Linked DNA regions of Homo sapiens: region 1 is linked to region 2. A link means that fine-mapping ties the variant in region 2 to the expression of a gene that starts in the linked region. Tissue or cell type: lung. Region 2 holds a variant in brackets; the other region holds the start of a gene. All regions are shown on one strand. Distances are from middle to middle.

Region 1 (5,000 bases), 230 kb after region 2:
AATGTTACATTTTTCCAATTTAAGTCCGGGTGGGTCCTCAATAAACAAATGCATTTCTCTGAATAGCAAATTATGTAAGTAGCTTTAGGCAGCATACCAAAGTCTTATGTGAAAAGTATGCTCTCTAACTCTCACAATTGTTAAGGTTTATTTGCAATGAAAGTAATTCAGAATTTTCATCCTCTTTATGTGAACCTCAGATCCTCTTAGCAGCATTTGCCAGCCTCTCTAAAACACAGAGACATACACAGACATCATCCTCTTGTTAAAATGAGACATCAGAAGAAACACTTCTGCTCTAGGACATCATTAGAGCTGGACAACAGCCTGAGGAGAGAAAGAAAAAAGTGTTATACCAACATGCCCTTAGTGAATTTTTTTTCTCTTGCAAATGTTGATGGCTATAAAGACTATATAGATAGTTGAGAACAAACATATTTTGTCTTGCAATATGCCACTTGACTACCTCTCTTCTGAAATTTTATACTACTGATTTCTAGAATACTGATTTTCTAAAATGAAGTTTATCTTACCAATAACATTTTAGTATTATACATTTCAGATGATTTTTCAGTCATCCTGTTTTCATCAGGAATGCATTTTGTGCCAATTAGCTTATTCTTTGTCATTAAATTTAGAGGATAATAAATTGCAGTAGGATAATAACAATAGACAAGAAAGTTTAATTTAAATGTTTTACCAGTAAAATATATTTTATAATTAAAAATGCAATGATTTTTCTGAGAGCAAATCTCCCTTAATTTTGTGCATCAAAAATGGTCAGCTTACTCTTGAAAACCAAGTTCACACAATTTGCAAAACATGTTATTCTCTACACTTAATGACATATGATGTAAGCACAATCAAGAGCCGTTTGGCTTCTTCCCTACTGCTACACCAATCCACTCTTCACATTGTGAGCGTGCACAGGCTGGGGGTGCTAGAGACTCATGGAAAACCAGAGGGCTTTATGAATTTGTAGTACCACCACAATATGCCATTGTGGATACTACTAATTTGTATCTGGTGCAATAATTGGAACCGAGATGCACATTTAATAAGTGGTTTCTATAGCTTTAATATACCTGCGAAATGTGAAAAATAACCATTCTTAATTTTGGAACTGAAATTGTATTTCAGAACATGGCCAAGACATACTAAAAGCATAGACATGAGCCCACTACCTAAAACTCTTTTCTTTATTTTCAGAAAGGAAAGACAGTTAGTAGGAAATAAGGGAAATACTTAAATACCACTTTTGGAAACAAACAGGGATTTAACTGCTTTATCTGTCTTTGAGTTTTTAATGCAGGATATAAAGGACCTTAAAGCGTTCATATTGTCTCCTTAAAACCCTCTACTTCAATTTCACCCTTACAAGCTACTACTCTCCTAGGGAAGAGGAAAAAAAAATTTCCACTGACCCAGCTCGTGATTTACATACAGAGAGCAAATAAATGAATGGAGTGGGGGATGGGGCAGTGAGAAGCAATCTGTTTCTTTTTCAACCGCAGAAAATAAGATTACTTACCAAGAACATTTTTATCCAGGGCAAATGTTTATTCCCTCTATCATTCAGCGCCTCAGTCTCTGCAAGAAATCAATTTCCACTCTACCTTTCCCTCCTATTTCTAAAAAAGAGAGTGAGGCGGATAATTCTTAAGCTTCGGGGTCCGGAGGAAGATAGAGCTAGAGCGGAGGGCAAAAGACTCCCACAGCGCTCTTTATACAGATCCCAGCTCTGAGAGCGAACCCATGGGGAGGGGGCGGGGGATCATCTCTAAGGAGAGTACTCCGAGTAGGGAGGGGGATTCATTCTGCAGCCAAAATATAAATCATCTACAAACAGATTACTAGCCTCTCAGTCACACAGGCAGTTCCCTTGGGAAACCGGTTTCAAAGAGGAAGAAGTTCCTGGAGAGAGAGAGAGAGAGAGAGAGAGGGAGGGAGAGAGAGAGAGAGAGAGAGACTGGGGTTTGGACTTGCAGAGGGAATGGGGCCAAGGAGAGGAATAGGGAGAAGGAATAAAGCTAATCTTACCGATCGATCAGGCGATCGTTTGTTCAGTATTGGGACACGAAAATGGCAAGATAATGCATTCGGCAGCAAAGCCATTTCTGGCACACTCTCTCTCAGTTACTGCAGGAATCAGAGGGGAAGCGGGCGCCTCGAAACCTACCACTTGCTCCCCAGGGACCGTCCTCAGAACCTCCAAAGCTCTAGCTTCTAATGCAAGGCGTTCGGAGCTGAGGGTTCAGGTGGAAGTCAATTGTCTTGAGTCACAGGCAGCAGGAACGCCAAAGAAGTGGGACCTGGGAGGGCTGCTGCCGCCGCTGCTGCATCTAACCACGGTTCCCCGTCCCCTTGCCTAAGCCTCACCGGCACAGCGCCCCCGAAAGCGCCTAGCGACTCGGCCTCCTCCGCATCTTCAGCCCTTCGATCACCGCCCGCACCCCCCACCCCCCACCGCCTCGTGCAAATCGCTGATGATTTGGTCATCGTAATGTGACCGGTCGTAGTGGTTTATTTGGGGAGTGGGGGAATTGGTTGTGTTGGGCTTCCTTACTACGCCTCCCTCAGTTGCTGCAAGTGAAAATGTTCAAGGGAAATACTAGTGAAATGCACTGATGGAATACTATTAATCCTAATGATAATGGTCCCAACGCAGGTAACTCTTAAAGAACTGAGAGTGGGAAGATCAGAGCAGGATTTCCGAAGTGGTGCCCTCTTGAATTCTCATTGGATCCTCCCCAGCAGCCTAAATCATTCTTGCTGCTATATCTATCAGGATGACTACAGCCTTGCTCACTAGTTCTCTCTTTATCTCGTTGTCTTCAACACATCCTTTTACTTCTCTTTGCAGATTTATCTGTATTCCACCTCCTGTTCTCTGGGGTTACACAGCTTCTGCCTTTCCCCACTGTATGGGGATGTGCAGCCTGTAAATTTTCACTTTGCTTAAGGATCACCACGAATCACCCCCCACCATTCCCCACCCCCCCATATAAAGCATTTTCACATTCTGCTTTCTTGCCTTGGGGGTTCGTGGCTCTCTGTGTAACTGGTTTTTACTTGGTTACATGCCACCAGGAACTGCTGATTATTTTAAAGTCCTACTACCCTGCAGCTCACTACTTTACCTTGATTTGGAAGATCATGGAATATCTATTTGAATCCTGGATGTATTTTTCTCACAGTCTTCTTGCTTCCTGAAATTTCCTCTGGTAAGTTATTCTCTTTATCTGTTACTAGAAACTTAACTATTGCTATTTTTAATAAGCTCTGTTTTGTTGAAGTATTTCATTTTTCACATTTTTGTTACTTTCAGAACTGAAAGATCCATATGGCCATATTTATTAATTAGTATGTTAGTGGCAACTGCACTGCTAAGACATAACCCATGTAATGTATTACCCCAATATCCCATGTATTACCCCAATATCTTTTACCTTCTTTATTTTTAAAATATTTGTCCTCATTTATATTATGGGTTACACGGACATTAATCGCCCCCACCCCCATTAACCCTTCTTGGCACACATTCCTGTGCCATTTGAAATGTCACATTTTATAGGTTTATCTAAGAGAGAGCTTAAAAGAGACCTTCTGACAATTGCAAGGTCTGGAAAGTTCGCTAGTCGGATATTCAGAAGGTTGTTCAGGTCAGCATTTGTTCATGATAAGCAATTACATGACTGAAGGAAGACTTTGTTGCAAAGTGTATTTTTATGAATTTAGCAAGACCTTAAGCACTAAAATGCCACTGAATGGTAGGAAGAGGACTGTGAGTTTTGAGGGCACCATTTTTTTTTCTTAAAATATTTCAAATCACACATAAGCACGTTATTTTAGGCATTGTATTTTAATTCAGGCATAGTATTTGTCAGTACATTTCTGATTTTGTGAATTAGCTGGTGAACAGTTAATTGGACACAGAGTACTCATTTCAGAGAGGAGCAATCAGAAGAAACCCCTGATTATCTTGGTTCTGATAAATTGAAATTCAAGAATAGACTTTACATGAAAAATTTAATTGCCTCACTCTTCATACTTGTCTGCCCCCAACCCTTGTGTTTAATAGGCATGTTAATATGGTCAGTGCCTTTTGCTTTTATGAACATTTCTATGGACTTAACTGACAAGATTATCACCTCCTCTTCCGTATAGTTGTGTTGAGAAACATTTTAATCTTTACTTTTACTTCACAATTGACACATAATGAGGAAAGCACGATATTCATTAAATGCCAAACCTGCATGTATCGGTAATTTTTAACACCCACTGAGGGTTTTCTCTGAACATCCGCCCCCCGCCCTCAAATTAAGGACAAGTTCCTGGTCTCTACAACATTTCCTTTTCTTGGGATACATGGAGGTAAGAACCTATTGTTCACGCTTTTCTTTTCCTTTTTTTTTTTTTTAATTTCTGGGAAATAACTATTCTTGTCGTCATTGATGGCTGACGCGACAACCCAAGCAATGTTTTTTTAAATTCAAAAGCCCTTTTAGCTCCCAGACATAAAAGTACTCCAGCTGCAGCGTCGCCCCATCCCCCCGTCTCGGGATTCAAGGGCTTTTCCCCCTTGACTCCCACCGAGAGGGAACGGGGGTTGAGACTGTGGTCCGCACCACTTGGCGCCCCTCACCCGTCACTAGGTCACTAGTTTCTACCTGGTCTCTTTCCCAGTCCGGTCGTCCTGCCTGACAAGCCAGTGCCATCAGAGTCCGTGACTTCATTTGAAGAAAGGAGGGCTTCATATAATTCAATTCAAACATTCTCTTTGGAGGACTGCTGTTGTTGCGCAAGGGTGGAGGGAGGAAAAAAAAAAGAAAAAGAAAAAAAAAACTTTCAGTACAGTCAGATCCAGTAAGGAACAGACAGTCAGTATTTAGGTAAGTGCGTTTTGCTGTATTATACCTGAAGCTCAAGCGTGTGAAAGGGAAATTTACATCTGAGGGGCTCCCGCTGCCAAGAACGTTTTAACTGGAGGGTTATCAACA
Region 2 (5,272 bases):
CATGCCTGTAATCCCAGCACTTTGGGAGGCCGAGGCTGGCGGATCATGAGGTCAAGAGATCGAGACAATCCTGGCCAGCATGGTGAAACCCCCTCTCTACTAAAAGTACAAAAATTAGTTGGGTGTGGTGGAGCATGCCTGTAGTCCCAGATACTCAGGAAGCTGAGGCAGGAGAATCGCTTGAACCCGGGAGGCGGAGGTTGCAGTGAGCCGAGATCATGCCACTGAACTCCAGCCTGGTGACAGAGTGAGACTCCGTCTCAAAGAAAAGAAAGAAACAGAGAGAGAGAGAGAGAGAGAGAGAGAGAGAGAGAGAGAGAGAGAGAGAGAGAGAAGAAAGAAAGAAAGAAAGAAAGAAAGAAAGAAAGAAAGAAAGAAAGAAAGAAAAGAAATTCCTTTTTAAAAATGATTCTTTGTAGGAAGATGAATAAATAATAAATTTCAGTTTAGTACCTAATTTTAACCCCTCCATACTAAGCCTACATATTCTTAACCTCCCTCCCGGCTCCTTGATCAGACCATTACTTATAAAAAGTTTTACTTAATTATTTTGTTTCCCCATTCCACTGCAAGTCTAAAATCAAACCCATTATTTGTCCTTAATACCAACGCTCCTTGAGTATTCCTTGCCATAGATAGTGGCTTTTTTTTTTTTTTTTTGCCACAAAAGATTGAAAAATGATTGGAATTTTTGTTAACATCTACTCTCCCTTTCCCCCTGATTCTAGTCAATTAGAAAAGGTTTTACTCATAAGTTTATTTATTCATATATAAAATTTCACTGTATTTTTACAGGCATATATTAACTCTAACTTAAACTATGGCAACCTTCTCATTTGTAATCTATTTCTAGTCTCTTTCCCATGAGATTCATCAGACATACTGATGTTGCATTAGGCTTACTATAGTAAAATCTACATGCTCTAGACTGACTTTACAAGGCACTCTGTAATCTGCTCCAGAATTCATATTTTCTGTCTTCTTTTTACCATAGCCGAATTATATCTTTACTCTCCTGTCTTATAACCTTTGCTAGTGCTATTTATTCCTCTTGGTATATCTTGGTTACTCCTCTACAGCTACAAACCCATGTTTTATTCCAGGTTCAGTTTCATCTAACTCTAGTGAAAGTTTCCTTGACATTGGCCTATAAATCTTTCATGCTTGTGAAATTCTTAATAGAAATGTAGCAAAATGTCCCTCCACATTTGATAACTTTAGAGTACTATATTTTTTATAGTTGAGGACCAGCATTTCCCATTCAACTTTCTGAAATAATTTTAATAGTTACATGCTTGCATATTCATCTCAGCTAGATTTTGACAGAAATTAATTACTGCACCTAATGTAGCGAGCATTTTGAACAGTAGATTTTCCTAGGTAATTAAGTCAGGATATTTTATATGCTTAGAAATACTGATTTAATTATAATTATTTTGATTATAATTATAAAGTTTTATTAGCATCTCTGTTAGTCACTTCTAACAGTTCTTTGTGAGGAGTCTAGTAATAATCACTTATTTATTTTGGTTTTAGAATTATCCGTGATTTGCCACCTTTGTTTTTATGGAAATCACTTGAAATATATAGACCTTTTCTTTTTTGGAGTTGCAAAAATAGTTTGCTTATTTACTTACATTTTGACATTAAAAATGTTTAATATTTGGGGACATAGGTACATATTTGCCTAGTATGTGCATCTATTTCTTCTGATGTTATAAATTCTACCCACATTCTAGGTTTGATAACTATCTGTTTTTTAAACTTTCATAGGGTTTTTAAATTTGTTTTTTACTCTTTACTCCATCTGGAATTTATTTTTATAGGTGATGTAAGAATATAAATTGACACTTTGTTTTTAGAATAGCTTTTTCAAGCATACCAACACCCTTTGTTGAAAAATAAACATTTTTCTTTTGATTTGAGTTGCCACTTGTAACATACATCAAATTGTTTATTATAATTGTGTCTGTAATAAGCAATCAGTTTTCCATGGCAATCTATTTATATTTGAATAAATATTTGAATATTTAGCCTAGGGTAATTGTAAATGTTAATGATTGCTAAGTCTAATACCTTATTTTTCTTTTTTATCTTATTTTTCCACTGCTTAGACTTTGCAGAATATGTTTTTCAAATGCTTTCATTTGATAGCAGGGTCCTTCAAACTAAGCCTTTGCAGCACTCAAAAGTATAGAGCAGATGAAAGCGGAGCTGCTCTGGTTGAAGAAGCCTGGAGCCCTGATTACCAGGATTGCACCGCATCCCGTTTGCAGAGTTTTGGGGCTCCTTGAACTCTTATTTAAACCTGTCATTTCAGATTTACAAGAATATATTTTTGACAAATTCTCTCAAAATCAA[A/C]TTTGGATTTAGTTGCAATTGCTTTAAATCTGCAAATCAATTTGAACATAATTGACATTCAAAATTGTGCCTATTAATTAACTTATTGCCTCCCAGCTCCAAGCTGACCTTTCCTTCTCCTGCTTGTGATACTACAGCGTTTCTCCTTTGTCAATCATCACAATGTTAAGCTTTGTCAGTAAAGACTGATAGAAGGACCCTGGAAAAGATAAGAAGAGAAGTTTTCTTTCCCTTTTGTGTATGCTTTGTTGGCTTGTTCCTGTGTTGTAAAGCACCCACCAATTAACAGAGACTCCAGCAGTGCTCAGCTTGTAGCTTGCCACTTACCCTCTGGGTTCTCTGCCTCATCAGCCTTTGCCACCCAGCTTCCCAGATGGGGTTTCCTGGCTTGCAGATCTCCTTTTGCCTGTTTTGATCAAGTGACACCCAACAGACGGTTACCTCCTTGCCAGTCCTGGTCTACAGTTCCCCGTTGACCAAACTCAACTATTTACAATGAGCTGATTGAGGATTTCTGACTGCCAGCTTTGACCTGCCAGCATCCTCATAAGGGCTTTATGTTTGCTGGCCAGTCTCCAGCTCCTTGTCCATTACCTTTAGTCAGATAGCATTCCAGTGGGTGATGTTTTGATTGGCAGACCCAACCACAGTTACCCATGCTCCAGCCTCAGTCGGGTGTCACACTAATGAGGAGCTTCTAAATTCAGTCCCTGTCCACAGCTCCCTGCTCACCGGGCTCAGTCCAACACTGTGTATACATTCAGACCACCAAGGCAATCCTGCAACTTCTCTGCCATTTAGTAGGCTGCAGTAACACACCCTCCGATGATGGCTGAATTACAGTTTTGAGGAAGAGAGCTTCCTTCCAACTGTTTTCCTTTCTTAAGCCTTGGAGAAATTTTTAGAATCCTTTTTTTTCTTTTATTCAGTCTTAATAACCAATCTCAGGAATATGGTTAATATTTCTTTATATAAAACTTCCTGTTTTCAAATTACTGTGTACTTTTTGTCTCCTAACTAAATACTGATTTATACAAAAAGATATTTTCTCCTTCTCGCCTTCTTCTTCTCTTCCTCCACTTCCTCCTTTTCCTTTCCCTCCCTCTTTTTCCTTTCCTAGAGGATACATCTTTCCAGTTATTCAAACCCTTATTCAAAGTATTTTTTGCTTTGAAAAATTTTTTGTTTATTTTTCTTTAGTTAAGTAGCATCCTTTTGTTTTAGAAATACAATGCTATATTTTAGTCCTATGGTAGATGAGGTAATTTCCATTATATTATTCCTTGGAATTTAGTGATGCATATGAAGCTAATGCTTTGCTTTTTAATATGTTTAACTTACATCTTGACATATAACTAAACTGTTTTATAATCAAATGGTTTCATTTTTGAGGTATTCTAGTTTAACAATTGTATTATCTGTAAATAATGATTGTTTTGCCTCTTTTTTTTTCACCATCCCTGTATCTGAGAAATAGTCCCTGTCTTTATGAGATAAATCTTTTTAATCTATATAAATGAGTAAATAGTAGAGGGAGGGAAACTTCTTTTAATGAAAATGGGAGACATCATTTCCCCCCAAAACACTCCTACCACCCTGCCTCTCAAAGAGAACGATGCTATTATAAGATCTTGATTAAACTACCGTGCTTAAAATCAAAATTTATTTATCCATAGGTATGTTTGTGCAGCCTGCTGAAGGAAGCCATAAGGAATCCCTACTTCCATTTTTAATTAAGGTACTCACCAGAAATTTACTACCTATCAAGTTTTTCCTAGCTATTTTCCCAGTTGAGCTCACCAGTGTTAACCACGATAGCAATAGTTCACATTTACAGAGTGCTTATGTGGGACTCTAAGCTTAATTCCATTCTACGTGGTATTTTATATATGTGTATTCATTGAGTTCCCACAACATCCTTTTTAAATCATACTATCATCTTCTCATTTTATAGATGAAGAAACAGAGAACCAAGAATATAATTTTCCAAAGTGACACAGTGACAAATCTAAGATTTGAAGTCTGGTGGTTTCTAAAATCTATATTTAATGCTGCTACACATGGCAGCAGAGATCACATTAAACAATGTTAAGCATATAAATATTCCACAAATTAAGAAACTTTGTTCCATTATTGAGTTTGTGAAAAATTGAAATAGCCAAATTTTGAGGGGAAAAAAAGGGAGAGACCCAAGGAAAATAAATGCAACTTATCTTCCTCCTCCTAAAACTGCCCGTCTCTCATATTTTTATTCTGTTCAATATCAGCAAGAGAGGATCTCACTCAAGTGTATAGTGGGGATGGTAACACCACAAACAGATGAAACTTGACCTTTCAAAACTGTTCCAAAGTCTATAACACATATTTTATATATTTATAACAACAAAATTTAGCACAAAGTACAATATTTTGAGTGGCAGTAGAAAACCAATTGTCTCTGAAGTTGGTTGGAGGTTGGTGATACAAAAAATGGTATACATGTTTAAAAAAGAAAAGAGAAAAGAAAAATCTTGGTTTAAGTTTCCTTAGTGTCCTAGTGAACCTGATTCTCTGAAAAAAGTGAAAAACATCTTCCATAAGAAAAATAATGTGATATTGTATTTTCTACATGTATTGGGAAGATCCAGTTGTATATACTGTCTCATATTTTGGAGTAATATTTAAGTATATGTCATAATTTGTAACGTAGAAATTTGCAACATACATAGTAAGCCACAGTCATACTTCTCTGACTTACTTCTTTCCCTTCGTATCTATCACATTTCCCATTTAAGAAATATGTTCTAAACAATATTAATGTTGAATTGACAATGGATTATTTCCAGAGAGGCTTAGGAATGAAATTTATGCATTATTATGATTTTTAATATATCTCATTCATAGAATAAATATGGAAGATGTAGTAATCAAA

Which allele goes with the higher level. Alleles are on the strand shown, and positions count from the first base shown. SD is a standard deviation of normalised expression in the study named.
As copies of A replace C in region 2, the expression in lung of the gene that starts at base 2,808 in region 1 goes up (small effect, 0.36 SD a copy in GTEx).

The links. PIP is the estimated chance that this variant, and not a neighbour inherited with it, causes the effect.
Region 1: BRINP3 starts here. The variant in region 2 is the best candidate, but not a certain one, in a credible set for the expression of BRINP3 in lung (GTEx, PIP 0.57).

The regions. Positions count from the first base shown.
Region 1 is chr1:190,475,672-190,480,671 of GRCh38, reverse strand. It overlaps BRINP3 (BMP/retinoic acid inducible neural specific 3), which reads left to right and starts at 2,808. Exons shown (of 8, transcript NM_199051.3): 1 at 2,808-3,224. It overlaps BRINP3-DT (BRINP3 divergent transcript), which reads right to left and starts at 2,412. Exons shown (of 3, transcript NR_110716.1): 1 at 2,180-2,412; 2 at 1,532-1,590; 3 at 1-327.
Region 2 is chr1:190,701,740-190,707,011 of GRCh38, reverse strand. All of the region lies in intron 1 of LINC01720 (long intergenic non-protein coding RNA 1720), which reads right to left. Among named protein-coding and RNA genes, the nearest start is that of LINC01720, 79 kb to the right of the region's middle. The variant A/C (reference allele first, on the strand shown) is at 2,362.